4 linked regions of the Homo sapiens genome follow. The protein of the gene in region 2 purifies or fractionates together with the protein of the main gene of each other region. This does not show direct contact. Each region holds a gene or a part of one and is shown on either strand. Other genes may lie near its edges.

What was found. Proteins that work in one complex are often made in the same cells at the same time.
Region 1: the proteins of AMFR (region 2) and ERLIN1 purify together in Homo sapiens (affinity purification with mass spectrometry; 3 studies listed by BioGRID and IntAct, with this or other methods). This does not show direct contact.
Region 3: the proteins of AMFR (region 2) and OS9 purify together in Homo sapiens (affinity purification with western blotting; 2 studies listed by BioGRID, with this or other methods). This does not show direct contact.
Region 4: the proteins of AMFR (region 2) and PSMB2 purify together in Homo sapiens (affinity purification with mass spectrometry; 2 studies listed by BioGRID and IntAct, with this or other methods). This does not show direct contact.

The regions. Positions count from the first base shown.
Region 1 is NC_000010.11:100,176,030-100,179,529, forward strand, and holds part of ERLIN1 (erlin-1), read right to left. Parts: intron 3,219-3,500; coding exon 3,172-3,218; intron 2,166-3,171; coding exon 2,104-2,165; intron 42-2,103; coding exon 1-41. UniProt on the Homo sapiens protein: Component of the ERLIN1/ERLIN2 complex which mediates the endoplasmic reticulum-associated degradation (ERAD) of inositol 1,4,5-trisphosphate receptors (IP3Rs).
Region 2 is NC_000016.10:56,419,046-56,422,545, forward strand, and holds part of AMFR (E3 ubiquitin-protein ligase AMFR), read right to left. Parts: intron 1-3,500. UniProt on the Homo sapiens protein: E3 ubiquitin-protein ligase that mediates the polyubiquitination of lysine and cysteine residues on target proteins, such as CD3D, CYP3A4, CFTR, INSIG1, SOAT2/ACAT2 and APOB for proteasomal degradation.
Region 3 is NC_000012.12:57,700,632-57,704,131, reverse strand, and holds part of OS9 (protein OS-9 isoform 1 precursor), read right to left. Parts: intron 1-3,500. UniProt on the Homo sapiens protein: Lectin component of the HRD1 complex, which functions in endoplasmic reticulum (ER) quality control and ER-associated degradation (ERAD).
Region 4 is NC_000001.11:35,601,284-35,603,526, reverse strand, and holds part of PSMB2 (proteasome subunit beta type-2), read left to right. Parts: intron 1-152; coding exon 153-260; 3' UTR 261-2,243. UniProt on the Homo sapiens protein: Non-catalytic component of the 20S core proteasome complex involved in the proteolytic degradation of most intracellular proteins. This complex plays numerous essential roles within the cell by associating with different regulatory particles.

The sequences.
Region 1 (3,500 bases), on a different chromosome or scaffold from region 2:
CTTGTCATAATCTGCAGTATAGTTCCTCACGATATCAAACACTGAAGGAGAGGTACAACCCATGTTTGTTTTACCCAACAATGACACAGGTACCTTCAAATTCAGCCAGGGTAAAAGTCAGGGTGATATATTACACATGAGGAAAAGTGCCAACAAAATAGTGAAACCAAAAACCACAACTAACAAATCTTGATGTGTTGCTTGTGCTCAATTTTCCAAATACCCTTGCATTTGTAATACTAATGCCAAACACCTGCTGGTTAGCCCATCAAACAGGGGCTAACTTTAAAGTCCACACTAAAGTATCCATTATTTTGGAGGTAATAAGGAACTATCAAAGGTTTCAAGCAAGGGCATGACAGTCAGATTTACGCTTTGGCCAGCAGTGTGAAGATGAACTGAGAAGCATAAAGATCAGAGGCAGGGAAAGCATAAGGCAATTACTGCAAAAGTTTAGCTAAGAGGTAAAGAGAGACTAGGCAAACTGAGGAACAGTAGAAATAAAAGAAGAAAGCAGTTGCAAAAGACCGTTTTTAAAAAGGCAATTTTTTAAAGTTGTTAAAACATTAACTGAGCTGGGCTTTATATCAGGTAATTTACATAAATTAGCACTGAATTCTCCTAAATTTGCATATTAGGAAACTAAGAAACAGAGAATTTTAGAAATGCCCAAAAGGTACATACTAGACCACGTCAGAACCTGTTCTTTATCTACAAAAACATGCTGCTTTCTACTTCTGTCTTCAGATCCAAGAATTTGCTCCACTGGCCTTCCCATGTGGGATATTAGATGCAACTGGATTTCAAATCCGACTGGGCGCGGTGGCTCATGCCTGTAATCCCAGCACTTTGGGAGGCTGAGGTGGGTGGATCATTTGAGTCAGGAGTTCAAGACCAGCCTGGCCAACATGGTGAAACACTGTCTCTACTAAAAATACAAAAATTAGCCTGGTGTGGAGGCATACACCTGTAGTCCCAGCTACTAGGGAGGCTGAGGCAGGAGAATTGCATGAACCCAAAAGGCAGAGGTTGCACTGAGCTGAGATCATGCCACTGCACTCCAGCCTGGGTGACAGAACAAGACTCCATCTCAAAAAAGAAAAAAAATTAATGGACAGGCCATTAATAAATACTTAATGACTAAATCATTTGCTTGATCATTTCCCAAATGAATTATATCTAAATAGTTTCCTATTTAATCTCTGGTTAAAGAATCATCAGTCCCTTCCCTTTTTCAATCATAATCCATTCCAGTGATTTGTAATCAAGGAAAGGAGAGGAAAAAAAGACAAGGAAAATGCTTACTCTCTGAAAAATATAATCCAAATGCCCTTGACAGTAATACGCCTGCTCTCTACTCTGAAATCTTTTCACTATTTGTGCCTGTACCGGTTATGTGAAATTTATTATGACCTTACATCCCAATATATCCTTTTTTAGCTCTGTATTATGTCTTCTCAAGTAAAATTAAAACCCCTGAAGGCAAAGGCTGTAATTTCATCTTTTCAAATTATTCTTGCCAAACACAATATTCTGTACATACTAGACATGCCAGTTTTATTAACAAGCATGCATATAAGACGGTATATCTTTCTTCAGGGCTTCTAATTAAGTTTTTGATTACAACAGTACCTACCCACCCCATACCTGTAGGTTTTCATCTTTTATCAAGAAAATGCTTTCCCCACGTTGAAGGCTTTCAGACTGCTTTGCAAATTATAGCAAATCTCAACTAGAAAATACTTCTCTTTGATGGCAAATCAGTGTGGGCCAAGGAATTGATCAGTTACAGATTTCTAACACCCAAGGAAATTATCTCTCATCCTGACTGGATAAAATACTACTTTCCTATTCTAGAAATAACCAATGACCATTTTGCTCTTAGAAACACTAAGCTCAGAGAAGAGTAACTCATACAGTTGCAGAAAGTCAACTCTGTCCAGAACTTCTGACCTATTTTTGCCTCTATTCCCCAGAAATTTATTAATCAGTGATCAATGAAGTCATAAAACTTTCAAAGTACCCTTCTATTCCTCAAAGAATCTCTCAGCTATAAATCCTCTGGCTATAACTATAAAAACCACAGGTAGATGGGTAACATACCTGCATAAGGAGCCAACATATTAACCACTTCTATTCGGTCAATATAGATCATGACCCCACCACTAAAAACAAAGAAAAAAAGTGTGAACTACTAAAGGCAATCCATAAAACACAGTTATAGATAGACCTGGGGAGAAGCTGATAATGAAACATACTAATATTCACTTAAAACACAGAAAGAGTTCGCTTCCTTTTTCATAGCATTTCTGTCCCTCTATAGATGTCAATGTCTTTTTTACACTTGTAATAGTCATTTAAAATAAGTAATTTAAAAAATACCTTGAACTTCACATTCTTCTTTTGATACAATTCAATGCAGTGATTATACCCTAGAAATAATTTGGGCCCTGCTTGCCTTTCTTTCCCTAAACCTCTTTAGGACAGCAATTCTCAAAGTGAGGTCTTCAGACCAGCAGTATCAGCATCACCCAGGAACTTTTGTTAGAAATGCAAATTCTCGGGCCTCACCCCAGACCTATTGAATCAGAAACTCTAAATTAGATGGCATTTAACACTACAGATGAGAAGACGGTGGGATGATTAATTTTAAACTATGTTTTATTAAGCACCTATTCTGGGCCAAGTTCTGGTTAGGCACTTCATATACAGTAATTCTAATCCTTACAACAACTCTGCAAGGTAGATTTTACTGCCTTTATAAAGGAGGAAACTAAGCTTTAAAGTGTCAATAAAGGAATGTGTTGGGGAAAGAGGTATATAAAAACTGTCTGTACTTTTTGGTCAATTTCACTATGAACCTAAAACTGCTGTAAAAAATAAAGTCTTTAAAAAATAGTCAATAAAGCAGATGCAGCAGTGCTAATACACAGTTAGGTCTACTTGCTCTAAAACTCCAGTTTTTTCCAATAATACCATAAGAACAATAATGGTTCTTAAGATGGAAAAGCTCCTATTTGGAGATAGGCCTTTGCTCAAACAATGCTCAGATCAGAAGTCCCCTTGGGTTAACTATCATGCCTATTTGAGATATGTCTAAGTGATCATAGCTGTAGGAACAGAAACTCTGTCTGAGCTAAAGGGAGGCTCGTAGGCAAAGAGAAAGCTTACCTTGTTCCACAAGGCACATTTTTAACTTCATCAGTTTGTAGTGTTGTCTAGGGAGGAAAAGATATCTCATCAACACTCAAGACACACATTGTCAAAAAACTACTGGTACCAGAGGCAAATCTCTGGAAAGCTGCTGACAGTAAGTACAGCAGAGATCCATCACAATTTCAGTTCCCAAAGATTAGCTCTCAGAACAGTCATTTCTTTTTGTATTCTAGTAGAAATGAAAGACTTGAGACAGAAAATATTTTACAGCAATTTTTTTTTTTTTTTGGAGACAGAGTCTTGCTTTGTCACCCAGGCTGGAATGCAGTGGTGCAATCTTGGCT
Region 2 (3,500 bases):
CAGAGTCTCACTCTGTCGCCCGGGCTGGACTGCAGCGGCGCATTCTTGGCTCACTGCAACTTCCACCTCCCAGGTTCAAGCGATTCTCCTGCCTCAGCTTCCCAAGTAGCTGAGATTACAGGCACCTGCCACCATGCCTGGCTAATTTTTGTATTTTTAGTAGAGACGGGTTTCACCATGTTGGTCAGGCTGGTCTCAATCTCCTGACCTCAGGTGATCCTCCCACCTCGGCCTCCCAAAGTGCTGAGATTACAGGTGTGAGCCACCATGCCAGGCCTGTACCCCTTAACTTTTGTACCCTGAGCATGCATTATCTATTTTTTAAAATTTTTTTAAAGTTTAGAATCTACTAAACTAACCTGACTAGTTCTGCAATTCCACATTATTTTTCTCACCATATGATGACAAACTGATGAGTAACAAACCAAAACAAGTTCTCCTGTTACAGCACAGTATTTCAACTATGGCCAGGCGTGGTGGCTCATGCCTGTAATCTCAGCACTTTGGGAGGCCAAGGTTAGTGGATCACCTGAGGTCAGCAGTTCAAGACCAGCCTGGCCAACATGGTGAAATCCCGTGTCTACTAAAAATACAAAAAATTAGCTGGGCATGGTGGTGCACACCTGTAATCTCAGCTACTTGGGTGGCTGAGGCAGGAGAATTGCTTGAACCCAGGAGGCGGAGATTGCAGTGAGCCGAGATTGTGCCATTGCACTCCAGCCTGGGCGACAGAGAAAGACTCTGACTCAAAAAAAAAAAAATTCAACTATATTAAAACACTTCAGAATGTTTCTCATAGCTATAGTGCTGTCAAAGCTTCAAGTCATTTTTTAAAAACTCACCAAATGCCTTTTTTTTCCAGTCTACACAAAATAAAAACAAGTTTTACTTGTCCCCGTTCAGAGTGTAGCAGGTCAGGCAGCAGTGATCCCAGCAACCCTGACTTACTCAAGGCTCAAAGTTAATTCCCTTCACTCCAAGGCCCAGCAGGAAAATGTCCCTTCCAGAATGGTTCTACTCTTCTACTGGAGAAAACAGAAACTAAATTATAAAATAGTTAGGCCTGCCTGGGAGAAAAAGAGAGGAAGGTGCATTTATCACCATGTAACCCTACAGGTGTTTTTGACCCTGTAAAATGTTGGCCACCAACAGGTGCTTATTTATGACCTTGCAAAGACATGGGATTAAACTACTAGGAACCTATTCCAAGACATGGTCAATCTGGATATTTCTTAGACTCCTGCCTACACCAGCACCACTCCCCTGCGCCCCCTACCATTTGGTGGTTTCCTCCCTTTAAGGACAATTCACGTATTGTTACCTCTCTGCAGGCTCCCAGAAACAAACACATAATACAAACATGCACACACTCCCCTTCATCACATAGATGATAACTGTGTTCCTTCTTTAACAAGACTAGGGAAATAGACGAGAGTCCGCACGCAAAGCATACCTAGGAGGTGATCAAATAGCAGTCCCCTTCTCCCTCACCTGGAAGACATTCCTTTTATTTTTAATTTATCTAGGCTCACATCCAATTATTCACAAGTTTAGTCTTTTTTCCTTCAGCTGCCCCAACATTTCTGGAGCTAACATTTTTCCCTCATATACCTTGAAATAGTCAACTCATAAAGACTAAAACCTAGGAAGTCACTTTCAGCTCTTAATTTTGTTTTGTTTTTTTTTTTTGAGACCAGAGTCTCACTCTGGCCCAAACTGCAGTGCAGTGGCACAATCATAGCTCACTGTAACCTTGAGCTTCTGGGTTCAAGCAATCCTCCTGCCTCAGCCTCCCAAGCAGCTAGGACTACAGCACAGGCCACTACACTTAATTTGCATAATTAAGTCAGAACCTTGACAGTAGTTTCATATTTCTATTTCTCCATTTACATGTCTTGCTCTTAGAATTTTAGAAGCAGGTATTTTATATCTTTAAAGGGTTGTAAAACAAATTAAATAAGGAAGTTGCAGAGCCTAAAATATTCACCATCTGAGAGCACTTTAGAGAAAAATTGGCTGACTCTTATTTTAAAAAGCCTATTTTCACATAATTATAATGGTGACTAATTTTTTTTTTTTTTTTGGTAGAGCAGGGGGTCTCACTATGTTGCCCAGACTCCTGGGCAGCTCCTGGCCTCAAGCAATCCTCCACCTCCTGCCTCAGCCTCCGCCTCTCAAACTGCTGAGACTGCCGGTGTGAACCACTGAACCCAGCCCTTAAGTTTTATAATAATACGAAAATCGGCTCTTTAAAATAGGATTCAGCCAATTTTTCTCTAAAGTGCTCTCAGATAGTGAATATTTTAGGCTCTGCAACTTCCTTAATTTATTTAATTTGTTTTACAACCCTTTAAAAATATAAAAACCATTCTTAGCTGTTAAGACAAAAACAGGCCTAGTCAAATAGGTCACGAGTTTGCCAATCCCTGTTCTAAATGGTCAATTCACTTTTATCCACTTTTGTTTGTGGTCATTTTTCCCCTTGAGAGTTCTATTTAAATGATATTATTTGCATAATTAAGTCAGAACCTTGACATTAGTTTCATATTTCTATTTCTCCATTCACGTATCTTGCTCTTAGAATTTTAGAAGCAGATATTTAAGAAAGCAGAAAAGGGAACTAATAAAAGTAATGAGTAAGAATTAAAAAATGAAAAAGCCAAAACACCTGAACAATCCAAAACCATGCTAGAATGGACCAAGAGGTAGCTGAATGGAAGCATTATCTGAGCAATGTAAAATAGCCCAGAAATGAGTAACAAAATAAAAACTCATCTGAAATGAAACTTTAGGATGGAAGTTTTAGAAAGACAAGGAGAAACAAATTCTCAGGTCAAACCCACATATTTGTTAGTGTAAAAACCCTGAAGTCTCCTCCCAAATCCTTTCTCAATGTCATGCCTGAGGGCCACCTGGAGAGGCCCCCTTGGGAGGAGGAAGTTTTAGGTCACTAGATCTCCCGTCCTCTTCCCACTCTACATAAATCTATCTTCCACACTGCTCCCAATCTTCTAAAAGAAATCATGCCAGCACCCCCACTCCTCCATGCCCCACCCCCACTTAAGCCCCATCAATGGCTTCTCTCACTCCACAAAATACTGTCCACACTTGGTAGAGCAAGCAAGGTCAAGGTTACATGACATCACACTCTAGCCTCTTCCTAGGTCAGTTTTTCAACCACTAGTGTTCCTCAAATCACCTAGGGCATTCATTAAAATGAAGATTCCAAGGCTCCACCCTTCTCTCTGAAATGGATCCCCAGGGAAACTACATTTTACAAGTACCCCAGATGACCACATACCAGGATGCCAGAGGTCCACATTTTGAGAAAGAAACCTTCAAGGGGGTTGCTCACCTCCTCCTCTCACAGCAGAGCCACCTGCCCCACCTCCTTCACCTCCTCCCCACCTCCTTCACCCCCGGTCTCCTCTTCACCTTCTCAACCTCCCTCTTAAATCAGAAGATTCAACAGACTTTTAATTTAACAGCCCAGCTTCCGG
Region 3 (3,500 bases), on a different chromosome or scaffold from region 2:
GATGGTTCAACATAGGTAAATCAATGTCATATACATTAATAGAATGAAGGGGAAAAAACCCAAATGATCATCTCAACTGATGCAGAAAATGGACTTGATAAATTCAATAACCTTTTCATGTAAAAAAACAATCAACTAGGAATAGGAGGGAATGTCTTCAGTTATTGATAAAGTCCATATAAGAAAAACCCACAGTTAACGTCATACTCAATGGTGAAACATTGAAAGCTTCTCCCTTAAGATTAGGAACAAGACAAGGACAGCCATTCTTTTCATTTCTATTCAACATAATACTGGAAGTTTTAGAGTGATTAGGAATGAAAAAGAAATGAAAGGCATCCAATGGTGTTTTTTATAGAAAAAAAAAAATCTTAAAATTCACATGGAATGTCCAGGGATCCCAAATATCCATAACAATATTAAAAAAAGAACAAAGTTAGAGGACTCACATTTCCTGACTTAAATCTTAATACAAAGCTACTATAATCAAAACAGTGTGATACTGGCAAAAAGACAGACATATTTACCAATGGAATAGTATAGAAAGGCCAGAAATAAACCCTCACATATATGGTCAACTGATTTTTGGTAAGGATACCAAGAATATTCCATGGGGAAAGGACAGTCTTTTCAACAAACGATGCCAGGAAAACTGGATATCCATATTCAAAACAATGAAGTTGGACCATATGCAAAAATTACACCACATACAAAAATTAACTCAAAATCAGCAGCTGGGCACAATGGCACACCCCTATAATCCCACCTACTCAGAAGCTGAAGTAGGAAGCTTACCTGAGCCCAGGAGTTTGAGGCTAGCCTGGGCAACATAACGAGACCCCCATCTCTAAGAAAAAAAAATTAACCTCAAATGAATCAAAGACCTAAATTTAAGAGCTAAAACTATAAAACTCTTGGAAATCAAAATTAAAAGCTTTTGTGCACCAAAGGACACTGCTGATGCAGGAGAATCGCTTGAACCTGGGAGGCGGAGGTTGCAGTGAGCTGAGATCGCGCCATTACACTCCAGCCTGGGCAACAAGAGTGAAACTCTGTCTCCAAAAAACAAAGCAAAACAAAAGATAGTAAAAAGGCAACCACAGGATGGGAGAAAATACTTACAAATCATAGATCTGATAAGGGATTAATATTCAGAATTTATTACATAAAGAACTCTCACAACTCACCAACAAAAACCAACTCAATTCAAAAATGGGCAGAGGATTTGAATAGACATTTCTCCAAAAAAGATATACAAATGGTCACCAAGCATATGAAAAGATGTTCAACATCATTAATCACTAGGTAAATGCAAATCAAAAACCACTATGAGATACTACTTCACACCCATTAAGATGGCTATTACTGAAAAAAAAGAAAAAGAAAACAAAGGAAAATAAGTGATGGAGGTAGTGTGGAGAAACTGGAACCCTGTGCACTGCTACTAGGAATGTAAAATGATGCAACTGCTATGGAAAACAGTTTGGCAGTTCCTCAAAAAACTAAACCTAGAATTACCATAAGGCACATTCTACTCCTAGGTACAGACCCAAAAGAATTGAAAACAGGACTCAAACAGATACTTGTACACCAATGTTCATCGCAGCATTATTCACAGTAACCAAAAGATGAAAACCTATTTGTCCATCCATTGATAAATAGGTAAACAAAATGTATATACAGACAATGGAACATGATTAAGCCATAAAAAGAAATAAAATTCTGATATATGCTACAACATGGATGAACCTTGAAAACACCATGCTAAGTGAAATAAGCCAGACACAAAAGGACAAATCTTGTATGATTTCACTCATGTGAAGTACCTAGAACAGGAAACTCATACAGACAGAAAGTAGAACAGAGTCTGGGAGAGGGAGAAATAGGAGTTATTTTTGTTTGGGATGATGAAAAAAGTTTTGGAAATAGTAGTGATGGTGATAGAACACTGAATGTTTCCACTGAATTGTACACTTAAAGACTGTTAGAATGATAACTTTTAGGTTATATATTTTTTCAATCATTAAAAAAATTGAGGGCCAGGCATGGTGGCTCACACCTGTAATCCCAGCACTTTGGGAGGCCAAGGTGGACGGATCACAATGTAAGGAGTTCAAGACCAGCCTGGCCAACATGGTGAAACCCCGTCTCCACTAAAAATACAAAAATTAGCTGGGCATGGTGGCAGGCGCCTGTAGTCCCAGCTACTCAGGAGGCTGAGGCAGGACAATCGCTTGATCCTGGGAGGCGGAGGTTGCAGTGAGCCAAGATCACGCCATTGCACTCCAGCCTGGGCAACAAGAGTGAAACTCTATCTCAAAAAACAAAACAAAACAAAACAAACAAAAAATTGAATTCACCAATAACATACACTCCTGTAACCCAGTGATTCTACTTTCTAGGTATTTCCCTGGAGAAATTCTTGTACACTCACAATAAGACCTACATTGCAGCACTGTGTATAAGGGCATTAGAGTTGAAACCCAACTGTTTATCAACAGAGGAATGGGTAAGTAAGCAATGAAACACAATACAGACATTAAAATCACTCAACCAGGCCAGGCACGGTGGCTCACACCTGTAATCCCAGCACTTTGGGAGGCCAAGGTGGGTGGATCACTTGAGGTCAGGAGTTCAAGACCAGCCTGGCCAACATGGTGAAACCCCTTCCCTACTAAAAATATAAAAATTAACTGGGCGTGGTGGTGGGCACCTATAGTCCCAGCTACTCAGGAGGCTGAGGCAGCAGAATCGCTTGAACCCAGGAGGCCGAGGTTGCAGTGAGCCTAGATTGCACTACTGTATTCCAGCCTGGGTGACAGAGCGAGACTCTGTCTCAAAAAAAAAAAAAAAAAAAAAAAAAAAAAAATCACTCAACCAGAGTTCCATGTCATGCCATTGAATGGCAAACACACTGATCAGTGAAAAAAACAAGTTGATACTCCTGATGTATAATTTTAAAACACAAAACACTATCTATTGTCTGTAATATATATATCAGTAATAAAAATACAAAACAAACATAGTGAGGGTTGTGGTTGTTTCTGGCGGGAGGGAGAGTGACTAAATATGAAGGTGGGCTTTAGCTATTAGCACAAGCATTTTATTCCTTTTTTTAAACCAGAGATCTGAAACAAATCAGGCAAAACATTAACATCTGTTTAACTTGGCAGTGAATTTATGGGTCTCTATGACATTTTTTTTTGTATAATTGTATGTTTTATAACTTAAAAAAATCTTTGATATCTCTAGAATCTTACTTTATAAGAATTGAGTTGGTCTACTACCCTAGACCTTCCTTTAGAGGCAAATTGCTCTCCCAGGGTTCTGCATCCCAGCCCTGTCCGCATTTTTTTCTCACTTTTTCTACTGTACCTTGATCTCCCTCTCCTCCTTTCCGCTAACATCCACCCAACAGCCTTCAACATGTTCTAGTCTGTTGCATCTTAAAACACACACCAATAAATAGGAATTTATTTAATTCCATATAGCTAACCAGT
Region 4 (2,243 bases), on a different chromosome or scaffold from region 2:
CTAGTGCCCTACTGCCAACTGCCTCCAGTAGAATATCAGTTCCACAAAAGCAGGGATTTTTGTTTGCTTGTATCCCCAGTGTCTAGAACAGAGCCTGGCACATAGAACTTAGTAATCATTTGTTGACTGATTTCCTCCATGTCTCTCTGCAGCTCCAGAAACGCTTCATCCTGAATCTGCCAACCTTCAGTGTTCGAATCATTGACAAAAATGGCATCCATGACCTGGATAACATTTCCTTCCCCAAACAGGGCTCCTAACATCATGTCCTCCCTCCCACTTGCCAGGGAACTTTTTTTTGATGGGCTCCTTTATTTTTTTCTACTCTTTTCAGGCGCACTCTTGATAAATGGTTAATTCAGAATAAAGGTGACTATGGATATAATTGAGCCCTCTGGTCCAGGTCTCAGTTTACCTAATATTACCTCAGAAAGGATATGGAGGGAAGATGATCTTTTTGCCAGGTCTGACTTTTCTTCCTGCTCCGCCCTCCATTAACGCTCAGTACCCTTTAGCAGCTGACGGCCCCACGTTCTACTCCATGCTTGGCTTCCTTTCCAACTAGCTCTTTCATATATTTTACTTGCTAGTATCTCCATTCTCTCTAAAGTAGTGGTTCTTTTTGCCCTTAAACTTAAATTTTTAAATTAATTAACCTGAATTAATAATACATGCACTTAATGTAACATGCAAACAGTACAAAAACATGTAGTGAAAAATATTTCTTCCAGAGCTGGGTGTGGTGGCTCATACCTGTAATCCCAGCACTTTGGGAGGCCGAGGCGGGCGGATCACGAGGTCAAGAGAGCGAGACCATCCTGACCAACATGGTAAAACCCCGTCTCTACTAAAAATACAAAAATTAGCTGGGCGTGGTGGCACGCACCCCTAGTCCCAGCTACTGGGGAGGCTGAGACAGGAGAATCGGTCGAACCCGGGAGGCAGAGGTTGCAGTGAGCCTAGATCGCGCCACTGTACTCCAGCCTGGCAACAGAGTGAGACTCCGTCTCAAAAAAAGAAGGAAAAATGTTTCTTCCATCCCTATAATCCAGTCATCTGCTTCCTGCTTCCCTTCCTGGAGGAAACTTCAGCTACTAATTTCTTATGTTTTTTAAGAGATATTCTGTTACTGTGTAAAGTATACATACATACAGACACATGCCCCCTTTAAATTTTTTAGATTTATTTATTTATTTAGAGACAGGGTCTCACTCTAGCCCAGGCTGGAGTGCTGTGGCGTAATCTTGGCTCACTGCAACCTCCGCCTCCCGGGCCCAAGTGATCCTCCCATCTCAGCCTCCTGAGTAGCTAGGATTACAGGCGCACACCACCAATGCCCAGCTAGTTTTTGTGTTTTTCATAGAGACAGGGTCTCACCATGTCATTCAGGTTGGTCTTGAACTCCTGGGCTCAAGCAGTCTGCCTGCCTTGGCTTCCCAGTGCTGGGATTACAGGCGTGAGCCACCGTGCCCGGCTAAAAAGTATTTTTAAGTTCTGCATATTGCTTATTTCACTTAACACTATATTAGAGATTGTTTTATATCAATACATATAGATATGCTTATTCTTGTTGACAGTTGCATAATTTTCCATTAAATTGATGTATCATGGGCAGTTAACCAGTTACTCGTTTTACTCTTAGCATAACTTTAGGGAACAATGTGGATGTTTTGTGGTTAAAGCTATTAAAACAGTGGTTCTTGACCAGATGTGTGTTTCAGAATGTTCATCTCACATTTCCAGTTGCTACTGATGCTGCTGGTCTAGGAACCACATATCAAAACCATTTGGTCTCCGACTAAGATAAACCCTACTTTATCCAATTCTGTGCTCCTCTTAATATCATATACAGATAGGTTTTTGTTTTGTCTGTGATTAAATGTATCATCTAAGATACTACCTACTGATCATAACGTTCATATTAAAGTATTGGGTTAACATTAGATTTGGGTGTCTTATACACTATTTAATACGCCAATGATAAATGCCTTACACCATAAGAAGAAAGCTAATCATTGAGTAAATGGGAGAAAAGAGATGATTCACGTCACTACAGTTGATTCAACCTCCAACACCACCATGAATATGCATAGGTTTGAGCTTTTAGCTAGATTCCTGAGTGTAAGGCATCTATTTTAAAAGTGCCACAGGTTGGCCGGGTGCGGTGGCTCATGCCTGTAATCCCAGCACTTTGGCCGCCCGCCGAGGCGGGCGGATCACCTGAGGTCAGGAGTTCAAGACCA